Linked DNA regions of Homo sapiens. The protein of the gene in region 1 interacts with the protein of each later gene in a biochemical or structural test. Each region holds a gene or a part of one and is shown in the gene's direction. Other genes may lie near its edges. The genes, in order: RAP2A and RGS14.

Region 1 (4,746 bases):
TAGAATTTGTTAATTCACCTGCTTTGCCACAGAAAATGGAGGCTTTCACAAGGGTTTGATCAGAATTAAAACCCCAAACCCGCCCTCTGTTAGGGGTGGTCTTTATAACTTTACTGAACAAGAGGGAAGCAACTGTGATGGGAAGAGATTACCTAGCCTTACTAACAAGAAGCATTCTAATAGATAAACTAGTACCATCATGTAAGGAAGATGAAGCCATGTTGCATCCACATGTTCCCGTTTGCAGAAACCTCACAGGACAGTACGAATATCTGGCATTTTTAAGTTCATTAAAGCAGCAAATTCCTTCTCGCCTTTAAGGGCTATGGTTGTAGTGTGACCCGTGGCTAACCTGCTTTCAAAATCAAGTATTTGCTGTAGCAGAGCTTTATTGCAGGCATTTTAAAAATTGAATAACCATGTGAAATAATTTGGGCTTAAAAGTGAACATAAATTATAGAGTGGAAGGTAAGGGACAAAAGCCTTTTACCTTTAATTTTCCTGGAGAATTATATAAAGGTTTTCTTAGAACAATTTTGCCCTGATTACTGAAGCGTCAAATAAAGCTGGAGTGAAAATTTTGTTTTGAAAAGGTGCTCAAGCTCTGACATTTTTGGTTTTCATAGTCGTGAAGTATTTATCATTTGCATGACTAATGGCACAGGAAAAACCTATTCATAAGTTTTACAATCAAGTATAGAGGGGTCTTCAGCTAACTTAGTTATACATAAATGCTGAAAAGATTATCTTGAGCTGGGCCTTGGGAGAAGAATTTGGCCTTCAGAACTGCAATATCACTGAGCCTGCGATCTATACACCACCCCACATTTTGTTGGTTTCACAGTCTTGTGCAAGTAACCTCTGGTCTTACGTGTGTAACTGAGAGAAGAGTGTGTGTTTGTGTGTGCATGTGTGTTTATTGTTCCTAAGAATTTGGCACAAGTCAGAGATAATTGCCTATACTAAGAATCTATACTGCAGAATATAGTGTATCAAAAACTTTTTTCTTTTAAATTATTAAAGTGTCTTTTATACTTTTATGAAATCATTGGTAGCCCCCCAAGTGTTTAATAACTGGCATTAAGCTTAGAGGGTGAAAAAAAAAAAAAAGATTGATAGTATTTTTCATAATGAAAAAACTGAAGAGATACGTGAATGAAACCAGGCCATAGCTGTCATAAATCTTTGACTTTTGAATATTTACATTCTTCAGTATAATTTTTTATAATCCTCAATTATGAACCACCTTGTTTATAGGACAAAAAAATTTAACCAATTTTATTGAAACGAATTTCACTGTGTAAAAGTTGGTTTGATTCAAACATGTAGAGAAGTTGTAGATTCAAGATATATGATTTCTCTATGGAAATAAAAATATTTGTTAGTGAATTGGTTGAGTTTTGATTCCTCTAACTTCTCAGAATGATTCTTTAGAATTCTATAATTCATAGCAATTTTTGACAAGTAAGATTGCAAAATAGAAATATCTATAAAGATTCCACAGTTTGACATTATGGCTTGCTATGCAGATGTGAAAATAGGTTAAATAATATGAAAGATATGGCAGAATGTAAAGTGGAAAAGATGACCTAAAATTTTGAGTTGTATTAATAGTTAAAAACATTTGTGTCAGATGACAGGGTGGGCTTTTACTGTCAAGACATGAATAAGAACTGATCTGGCTGCCTGATGAGTGTTTCCACGCAGCCCTGCATATTTAGTGACCAAGGCATCAAGGACATCCCGAAACTGGAAATTCATATCCATCTGGTATGAATATATAACTCAGCTGGCAAATGAATGTGTTTGTTGAGATATTACAGTAATAAAACACTTAAGAACAGGAAGATTACATTTGTTGGCATACGAAACCTTAGTGGCTACAGAAGAAAGTTGACCTTGTGTCACTATTTATTTTATGCCCTGATCAGACTAGCAACTTAGATAAGTGAAAGTTTTTCTAACATGCCTTAAAAATATTATGGTTTGATCCAAAGACCCACTTTTTCTTTAGCTCTTGTGATAAGATTTTCTTTTTTTTACTTTTATACAAAGGCAGCATCTTTGAATTTTTTTTTCTTTTGATGTTGCAACTTTTGGGTTCTTTTAAACTGTGATAGTGATGGTAACTGATGCCTTTCATTTTGTTCAACTTATACAAAACAAGCCAGCATCTGATCAAAAGTATTACATAAAATATTTTCTTAAACTATTGAAAGGTGCTTTGATGATTTTCTCCTTTGGTTTGTAGAATTAGGACTGAACTTTTGACTCAAATTGCTACAGTTGCCATCACCTTTCTGTGGTAATACTACTGATATTTGCTTTTCTATATAAAGAAATGTTGCCTAAGGCTGTCTGGTATTTCTTTTCAAGGGTTTTCCAGTATGAATGTTAATGTTGTCAGTGTATGTATGAATATGAAAGTGCTTTGTTTTGTTTGTTGCTGTTTTTTGTTTATGTGTGTGTTTTTAATTTTTTTGTTCTTATCAGCAGTCTTGTGTTAGCACTGGGTAAGCTTTAATTGTCCCTTAGCCAATCAAACATTAAGGACTATGGAGGTCTTTTTTTTTTTATTTAACATGTCATTGTTCATCTATTAAATCTTGATCAGGGTTTCAAGAATGACTGCAGTGGGTTTTGGAAACAGACTTATCATTATTGATTTGAGGTTTCCCAGAGATATAGTTCACAGTTAATTGTTGCGCTCTAATACAACTGACCATTTAAAATTGAACAAGTTTATTGTTTTGTAACAATGTCAGTTGTTAAACCTTGACATTTCAATTAAAACATGAATTGTAGTTATAACTCAATGCAAATTCAACAGTTGTATTTGGAGTTAAATTATTTTAACAAATAAATTTATTTAATGAAACTCTGGATTTGCTTTGTTTTGTACATGCTCATGAGAGAAATGTATTATATACAAAAACAATTAAAAATTGCCATATAATGAATTTAGTACTCTTCATACAAAAATATTTTAGCTGATTTGAGAGTTCATCATATAAAAAGGCAGGTAGGTAGATAATTTTCATAGTCTTTAAAAATAAAAATAACATGTAAGAGACTGTAAAATCAGTTATTATAAATATAAACTTATCTCTACAAATGATTTTATATTTTGAATGGTAGCTGGTTAATTTAAAGCCTGATGCTAAGGTTAACAGAATTGTTCAAATAATTAACATTAATTAGCAATATCACTAAAATGATTCAGAGGCCTTCTAGTGATGGCTTGAAGCCGTCTTTCTGTTTTCAGGTCATGTGGATCCGAAGGTGCCAGAAGCTGAAGGTTGCCGCCAGGCTGTAGGGCCTGCTTGTTCTATATGGGGCCCTATGAAAGTTGACAGATGCTGTTAATTGTATACAGCCTTCAGCTGCTCTGATAAGGAGCCCATTCATTTCCTAAGCCAATTTAAACTATGCCTTTTGGTTATGTTGCCTTCAAACTCTGTTGAAATCCTCTGGCAGCATTCCACCAGTTGAGAAGCTTCATTGTTTTAGATTATAAGAATAATTTGAATGAATATAACAGAGGCACTGTAGATAGAATCCCAGATATTTAAAGGAAAACATGCCTATATTTTAGGAATATCTTCTGAAGAACTTCATAATTTTATTTGAAGTGTTTGTAAATTTTTTAATAAATTATTTAAATGTATCAATAGTGGATAGTTGGAAGAACGTCTTTGAGGCTAAAAAGTAGTACTCTGAAATTCTCTCAAGTTATATTATTTGTCTGTTAGAGGTCCACGAATGAAAATATATGTAGCTAAAGGAGTAAGGTGCTGCCCAATTTGGAACCCAACTGACCTCTAGGATCTATGAAGCAGAGAATATTACCACAAACTTCTGAAAGAAGCTGTTGACCTCGTTTCTTAATTTAAAATATGTTGCCACATAAATACTAATAAAACATAGTTGCTCTTCATCTCTTAAATGGATCATTCCAACTGGTTTTACATCGTTGAATATTATCTAGTATTTTTAATAAATATTTTCATAAATAGTTTTTGTGGTTTTTTTGTTTGTTTTTGAGACAGTCTCGCTCTGTCACCCAGGCTGGAGTGCAGTGGTGTGATCTTTGCTCACTGCAAGCTCCCTCCCGGGTTCACACCACTCTCCTGCCTCAGCCTCCCAAGTAGCTGGGACCACAGGTGCCCATCACCATGCCTGGCTAATTTTTTGTATTTTTTAGTAGAGACGGGGTTTCACCATGTTAGCCAGGATGGTCTCGATCTCCTGACCTTGTGATCCTCCCACCTTGGCCTCCCAAAGTGCTGGGATCACAGGCGTGAGCCACCATGCCTGGCCTATAAATAGTTTTTAGATAATATTCAACATCCCCAACATCGAGGTATTGAGTTTTAAAAGATTTGCTGCTATTCTAGGTAAGACGCTGTGTTATTTCTTTCTATATTTTCTTAGTAGTCTTCATGTTAGCCTCTAAGGATTCCTCCAAGATTTCTCAGCAGAGAAAAAGGTAGAGGACTAGCTGCTTGAAAGAGTAAATACGAAGACCTATTTAGTATGTATGAGTTGGGAATAAAACTGAAGGAAAGATTCTTGGTTTAGCTTATGGGGATTTTTTAGTATAAGATCCTCCCATTTTAAAAACTTCAGTATCAATGATTCATATTTACAGTTTTACACTATTTTGAGTGTGATGTGCTTTTATACCTTTAAAAACATCAGGATTAGTGAAGGGAAGAAAAGGTCACCCCAAGAGGATCATGAGGT
Region 2 (7,286 bases), on another chromosome or scaffold:
ATTAGCTGGGCGTGGTGGTATGTGCCTGTAGTCCCAGCTACTTGGGAGGCTAAGGCAGGAGAATTGCTTGAACCTGGGAGGCAGAGGTTGCAGTGAGCCGAGTTCGTGCTACTGCACTCCAGCCTGGCGACAGAGCAAGACTCTCCACTAGCTCCATGCACCGTGTTGTAGGAGACGGTCCCTAAAGGGTCTGCAAGCTGGAGGAGGGAGGGCACGGCATAGGCCTGGCTGTGGGCAAACACAGGGACAGGGCCCTAGGGGAGGCTGAGAGTTAAGCCTGGAGGGGCAGTTAGCCTGTCCTGTCCTGTCAGAGGGCCTAGTTAGTCTTCCCCTCCTGGCAGGAAGACCTGCAAGGCAAAGCCCATGCAGCTCTCTCTTTGTCCCTCGCGTCCAGCTCAGGGCACTCGAGTTCAGGGTGGCCTTATACAGGGGCAAGGCCAGGGGTCATCTCCACAGGCTGGTTCAAGTTGAAGGGACCAGACACCCAGATTCTGTGTGGACATCTCCAGACAGGGTCTTGCAGCCCCTCAAGCTAGGATGAAATCCTCAAGAGGATGGTAGAGGGTGCCCAGCATAGAAGATGCTCAGAAAATTGGCCCTCCTTCAAGGTCTGATCCCTCTAGAGGGCACAGTTCAAGAGGAGCCCCTGAGCAGGTCATGCCAGATTAGACTTGCCCACCTGTGCCCCAAGGGCTGAGGCCCTGGGCCTCCAAGCTTCCTTGGTCCACAAAGGGAGTCAGCTTGGGTAGAGGGTGGGGAGGCCTCAGGCTCCAGAATCAGGCAAACTTGAGTTCTAATCTCAGTTCTGCCACATCTCAGCTGCATGGCTTCTTTGGGCCTCAGTTTCCTCATCTGTAAAATGGGGGTAATAATACCTGCCACACAAGATACCCGTAAAGATGGAGGGAGGACATGAATGTGTGCTGCCAGAGGGTGCCTGCCACACAGTCAAAGCTCAGGAAATTGGGGCCTTACTCTCACCTTAGCATTTTCAGGTGCCAGCAGCTCCCCCAGGACCAAATTCCTAAGAAAAAAATATGACCGGCCGAGGTCCAAGCCTGGGTCCGTGTGTCACTGGCCACCACACCCTTCCTTGCCCTTTCTTCCCCTTTTTCTCCATTCACTCACCACTTCTTCTCAAGCAGGCTGAAGCAGGGGAGGCCAGCCCTGCTCAACACAACTTCCCCAGGCCCTGCAGTGGCAGCCAGGGCAGGCCAGAGCCCCTGCAGGGCCCCTGCACACCTGCACCTCACTCCGCTGTGGGGTGCTGCTCTGATTGTGGCATGCCTGGTGCTTTCACTCATGGGGCCTCATTCAAGCTTCACAGCAGCCTCAGGAAATTGGGAGTGCTGAGCCCCATGCTACCCAGGGAAAACTGAAGCTCAGAGAAGTTACTTGTTCCCGAATAGCAGAGCTGGAATTGGATTCCACCCCCACTCCCACCCATCTCCAGATTTCTGTCCCTACTCAATTTCAGCTCCAGCTATGCTATCAACAACTGTCAGGGCAAGAGAGGCTCAGGATGGAGAGCTACAGGTGGCATTCAGGGGCTGAGAGTCCCTAGTGAAGGGGTGCCAAGGCCAGGGTCCTGATGGCTGCTTGGGAGCACGAGGCAAAGACGGTGCTTCTTGAGGAGGGAGTTCAGATCTGACCCCTCCCACCAACCAGGCCAGCACTCCAGGGGTGACCAGACTGGCAGGGAGAGAGGCCGGGACATGGGTGGATAAGCACGTGGTGGGAAGGGGCATTCAAGGGGCCTGGTGTTTGGGGACGACTAATGTCAACGGGCAGAGATCGGGGAGCAATTCCAAGCGAAGAGCAGGAGCAGATACCCAGGCACTGGCAATGGCAAAGCCGGAAGCAGGGGTGTGGGGAAAATAGAAAAGTTCGGTGAAGTGTAGGGTGGAGGTGAGGGGGAGGAAAATGGGTGAGGCTGAAGGGGGTTCATTAGTCAGGCCCAGGTAGGGTTTTAGCCGTAACCTGGCAACCGCAACGTGCCTCCGGGGGCAGGGAAAGGGCCCGGGTTGGCACCGTGGGGAGGGGTGGGGCCTGGGGAGGATCTAGCAGGCAGCCCCACTTAACGACATTCAGTTAAGCAGAACGTGGAAAATAAACCTGTGAGGGCCAAACAAAATTGAAGTGCTGGCTGGCGCCAGCTCCAGCGCCTATCACCCCTGACTCGGGGTTAGAGGGCAGGACAGAGGCTCAGGGTGTGCGCGAGGAGGGCAGGGCCAAGCAGCCCAGCGGAGGGGGGCGAGTCCGGGTGATTCTCGGGGATCTGGGGGAGGGCGATGACTGCGTCTCCGAGGCTGGGAACACCGTGGCGGTGCAGCCGGGGGAGGAGGAGCCCGGGCGCGGGCAGGTAGGTGCAGGCTGCAGAGGAACCTTGCGGCCGCGCAGGGAAAGGCTTCGTCCCGTCCCTCCTCGCAGCCCTCTGCCGCCCTCGGAGTGGGGACTTTCTCCTGTCGCCGTGGGAAGCACCGACTTTCGTTGGGGGATTTGACTCTGCGGGGAGGACAGAGCGGGGAGCACGAGAGCAGGGCCAGGAGGGGCGGGGCCGGAGACGGGGGCGGGGCGCGCTGGGCCCGACGCCCCGCCCAGCGCGCTCTGCACTAACTCGCTGCCCTCCACTGCAACTTCTTATTCCCGGGCTCCAGATGGGAAGCGAAGCTCAGGGAGGAGCCCGAAGTTGTAAAACTGGAAAAAGTCAGGGCTGGGGTTTGAATCTGGATCTGAGAGACGCCCCCCGCCCCCAACACCTGTGCTCTTTCCTTCTATGGCGGGAGTGGCAAACTCGAATGTGTAGCGGGGTCAGGCATCAACACTGACACAAGAACGACATTAATAGTAACGTTCCTTGAACATTTACTACACGCCCGATAGTGTTCTGAGTTCTTTATATATATTTCACTCATTTAATCGCACCAATCCTTCGAAGTCAGGACCATTATTTGCTCCATTTTTAGAGAGGAAAAAACTGAGGCACAGAGAGGTTAAGTACCTCGTCCAAAGTCACACAGCACAAATTTGACCTCCCAAATTTGAGCCTGCCTCCCACTGCCTCCACAAGTAACATAAATGCATTAAACTGGCCCCAGAGGCCTCTGAGAGGAGTGTAAGCCCTTTTGGGGAAGGTGGTGGCTGCTCAATCCCGGACAAGGTTGTCCTGCTGGGAAGGAGCTGGAGCATTACAGTCTCACGGAGCAAGTGGAATTTAAAATCTCTTGCTTTTTAAATGTGGAAAATACCTTTAAATAAAAATAATAATCATCATAATAAAACCTGAGAGGGCCAAGGTAATAGTAATTTCCCACATATCTGCAGACCGGATCTGGCCCACAGATGGCCGCCCTGTGACCTGAATACTCTCAGGGTGGGAGTAGGAAACAGAGAGGAAGGTTCCATTCAGGAGGGTGGGGGTTGGGGGGCTTTCCGGGGTGGAGATGTTTGCAGGCCTGTTTCCAGTTGGGATGGGAATAAGGGGCTGGTGGTAGGAACTTCTGTGACAGGGCATGGTGAAAGTGTAGGAGGTAAGCGGGAAGTAGGAACTGGGGATGACTCAAGCCCTGATGTTGGAAGCCCGGGTGATGGGAAGAAAGATGGGGGCAGGGAAGCTGGTTTGGTACTGTGTTTTGGTGGAGGCAGAGGGAGCTTCCATTTGGGACTTCCATTTGGGAGCTTGAGGGCTTGTGGGACATTTGAGGGGGGACTCGCCCCCCTCCGCTGGGCTGCCTGGCCCTGCCCTCCTCGCGCACACCCTGAGCCTCTGTCCTGCCCTCTAACCCCAAGTCAGGGGTGATAGGCGCTGGAGCCGTTACCAGGAAGTTGGTTATGTGTGTCTGGAGCTGTGGATCTGTGGATGGGACAAAGTGCCCAGGACAGAGCCAGAGAGGGGTTGAGGCCACATTGCATGAGTGGGAGATAGTGGGGAAGCTGGAGGAGCTGCTAGGAAGGTAAAAAGAGAAACAAGAGAAACCACCGCAAGAGTCATTTTGAGAGGAGAGTTTTTCTGTTTCACTAATGATTGGGATTCCCAGAGAAACCAGAGTTGTGCACTGGGGGCAAGGATGGAGTTAGTTACTGCAGCAGTACTACTCACAGAGTAGTCCCTGAACCAGCAGCATCAGCATCGCCTGGGAGCTTGGTAGAAATGGACAGCCTCAGGCCCCATCTTGGACCTACTGAACCTGAATCTCCAGAGGTGGGGTCCTCCCACTCTGCACTGAAGTTTGAGAACCACTGCTCTGTACTATAGACCAGCATCTTGTGCCCTCCCACGGTGGTAATGGGACCCTGGGCCCAATAGGCAACACGTGCGATAGTAAGATCACTGGCTGCAGAGACACCTCTCCTTCCTCAAAGACAGCACATGTTTATACAGCCCATATCACATGCTGGCCCATGTTCTAGATGCTGTGGATATATTTTTATTTGATTTTCTTTTATTGAGACGGAGCTTTGCTCTTGTCACCCGGGCTGGAGGGCAATGCCACAATCTCAGCTCACTGCAACCTCTGCCTCCTGGGTTCAAGCGATTCTCCTGCCTCAGCCTCCCGAGTAGCTGGGATTACAGGCATCCACAACCACATCCAGCTAATTTTTTTTTTTTTTTGTATTTTTAGTAGAGACTGGGTTTCACCATGTTGGCCAGGCTGGTCTCGAACTCCTGACCTCAGGTGATCCACCCATCTCGGCCTCCCAAAGTGCTGGGATTACAGGCGTGAGCCACCGTGTCCAGCCAATGCTGTGAATATATTAAACTGACTTGATCTTTACATCAAGATGGAAGCAAATGGTTTGCCTCCATTTGTAAATAGGCATTATCTCCTATTTACAGATTACAGATGGAGGCAAACAAGTTAACTAACTTGCCCAAAGTTACACAGCTAGTAAGTGGCAGAGACTAAAGTCTGTTCCTACCCACCATGCTATGCACACCTGGCTCACCCAGCAGGGGCTGGGGGAGGAGGGAACCAGGGGCTGCTGGAAGGTACCTGCCATAAGTCCCAGTACTTAGTGGTTGGCACAGGATGGAAGGGGAGCCAGGGGCAGACTGAGGAAAACCCTGACCAAGTAGAACCTGGCCGGGGATGCCCAGGTGGAGGAGAACGCAGTTCCAGCTCCTGGGAGTCGGGCCCAGAACTGTCCCCTGGGAATCCTCACTGGGCTCTTCTGACTTTCTCTGTTGGGTCTCTTATAGGTTCTGGCTGTGTCAGATGGAGGTAAGTGACAGAATGTGTGGAGAACTGGCTGAGTGGGAGGGAGGAGGGAGGTGGAGATGGGTGGGGACACCCCTGCCACCTGCTATCTTTCCAGGGAACATGGCTGCAGAGTGGATGCATGGGGGAGGGTGGGTTGTGCCAGGGGCTGGGGAAGGCAGCAAGGCTCACCCCAACTTGTCCATCCCCCTGCAGAGCTGAGCAGCACGACGGGGCCCCAGGGCCAGGGCGAGGGCCGCGGCAGCTCTCTCAGCATCCACAGCCTCCCCAGTGGTCCCAGCAGCCCCTTCCCAACCGAGGAGCAGCCTGTGGCCAGCTGGGCCCTGTCCTTCGAGCGGCTGTTGCAGGACCCGCTGGGCCTGGCTTACTTCACTGTAAGCCTGGGGTAGGGAAAGGGAAGGGGGGACACGGGAGAGGGCAGGGCGTGGATGGAGCTTCAGGCTGGCCAGAGTGGGGTCCTCTGTCAGCTTCCTCATCTAGCCTTCCTGCAGCACCCTCTTCCTCTTCTCCCAGCTGGGAACTTTTCTTCCTTCTCCCTGTCCTTGTCTCTGCCTCTCATTTTCTCTCCCTGTCTTCAGATCGGTCTGGCTCCGTCTGTCTGTCTGGCCCTGTCTGTCTGGCTTGGTCTCTTGGCCCTGTCTCTGTCCCAATCTTTTTGATCACATCCCCCAGTTTGGTCTCTGTGTCTCTGAGTCTCTGCCTGCCTCCCCCTCCTTCCCCTCCCAGGAGTTCCTGAAGAAGGAGTTCAGCGCGGAAAACGTGACTTTCTGGAAGGCCTGCGAGCGCTTCCAGCAGATCCCGGCCAGCGATACCCAGCAGGTGGGGGAAGGGGGAGCTGGGGCCGAGGGCTGGGGAGAGGGGAACTGGGCCACGCTCCCTGACCAACTCCTCCTGTCCCTCCTCCTTCAGCTAGCTCAGGAGGCCCGCAACATCTACCAGGAGTTCCTGTCCAGCCAGGCGCTGAGCCCAGTGAACATCGACCGTCAGGCCTGGCTTGGCGAGGAGGTGCTGGCCGAGCCCCGGCCGGACATGTTTCGGGCACAGCAGCTTCAGGTGGGCGATCCTGGGGGGATTGGCCTTGAAAGGGAGACAAAAGGAGCAGGGGCGGGGTCGGACCCTGGCGGGGAGTCTGAACTACAAAGCGGAGGGGGCAAATTTGGAGGCGGAGACAGAGCCAAATGCCGGGGCAGGCAGGGCGGAGCTCAGAGGGCGGTATCAGAGGCACGGGGAAGGACAGTTAGAGGCGGAGCCTAGCTGAGCTCGGGGCGGGCTTGGACCCCGGGGGTGGGTATAGGAACTGAGGTCGGGGCGGGGCTTGGGAAATCCAGCCCTAGGTTTGGGGCGGGGCCAGCCCCAAGGACCCGGCCTGGGTGCAGGCAGCCCAGCGCCCCCACCCCAGCCCCGGCTCACCTGTTCCGGGGTCGCCCCGCAGATCTTCAACTTGATGAAGTTCGACAGCTATGCGCGCTTCGTCAAGTCCCCGCTGTACCGCGAGTGCCTGCTAGCCGAAGCCGAGGGACGCCCTCTGCGGGAACCTGGCTCCTCGCGCCTCGGCAGCCCTGACGCCACGAGGAAGGTGCGTGGGACTGGGCGAGGGACTGGGCGAGGCAGGGGGTCCTGCGGACCGCGTGCAAGAGGGGACGCCTCCGGGTGCAGATCTGCGAGTCTGTGCCCACGGTCTGCATGCGGGCTGGGGCCCAGCCCGGTGCCAGCGCCTCCCCTGTACCCACAGAAGCCGAAGCTGAAGCCCGGGAAGTCGCTGCCGCTGGGTGTGGAGGAGTTGGGGCAGCTGCCACCCGTTGAGGGTCCTGGGGGCCGCCCTCTCCGCAAGTCCTTCCGCCGGGGTGAGGGCAGGAGCGAGCAACAGAGATGTGGGGAAGGCGGGAGTTTGGTTAAATTTGGGGAGTGCCCCCTTCCTCCTACGTGGCCCACAGTCTGTAAGTCTGTGAAAATTGAAACCCAGGTCCCAGTGACCACCACACTCCCCTGGGTGGTTCGGGTCTTGGGCTAGACCTCAGACGTTTGGAAATCTCCAACGGTGGTGTCGCTCCCAGGGATTTACACCTG

Evidence for each region.
Region 2: the proteins of RAP2A (region 1) and RGS14 form a complex in vitro, tested with the Homo sapiens proteins (one study listed by BioGRID).

Annotation. Positions count from the first base shown.
Region 1 is NC_000013.11:97,465,114-97,469,859, forward strand, and holds the end of RAP2A (ras-related protein Rap-2a), read left to right. Parts: 3' UTR 1-4,015; downstream 4,016-4,746. UniProt on the Homo sapiens protein: Small GTP-binding protein which cycles between a GDP-bound inactive and a GTP-bound active form. In its active form interacts with and regulates several effectors including MAP4K4, MINK1 and TNIK.
Region 2 is NC_000005.10:177,360,763-177,368,048, forward strand, and holds part of RGS14 (regulator of G-protein signaling 14), read left to right. Parts: intron 1-2,290; exon of another isoform or gene 2,291-2,362; intron 2,363-5,200; coding exon 5,201-5,222; intron 5,223-5,414; coding exon 5,415-5,593; intron 5,594-5,945; coding exon 5,946-6,038; intron 6,039-6,128; coding exon 6,129-6,272; intron 6,273-6,651; coding exon 6,652-6,795; coding exon of another isoform or gene 6,796-6,951; coding exon 6,952-7,063; intron 7,064-7,286.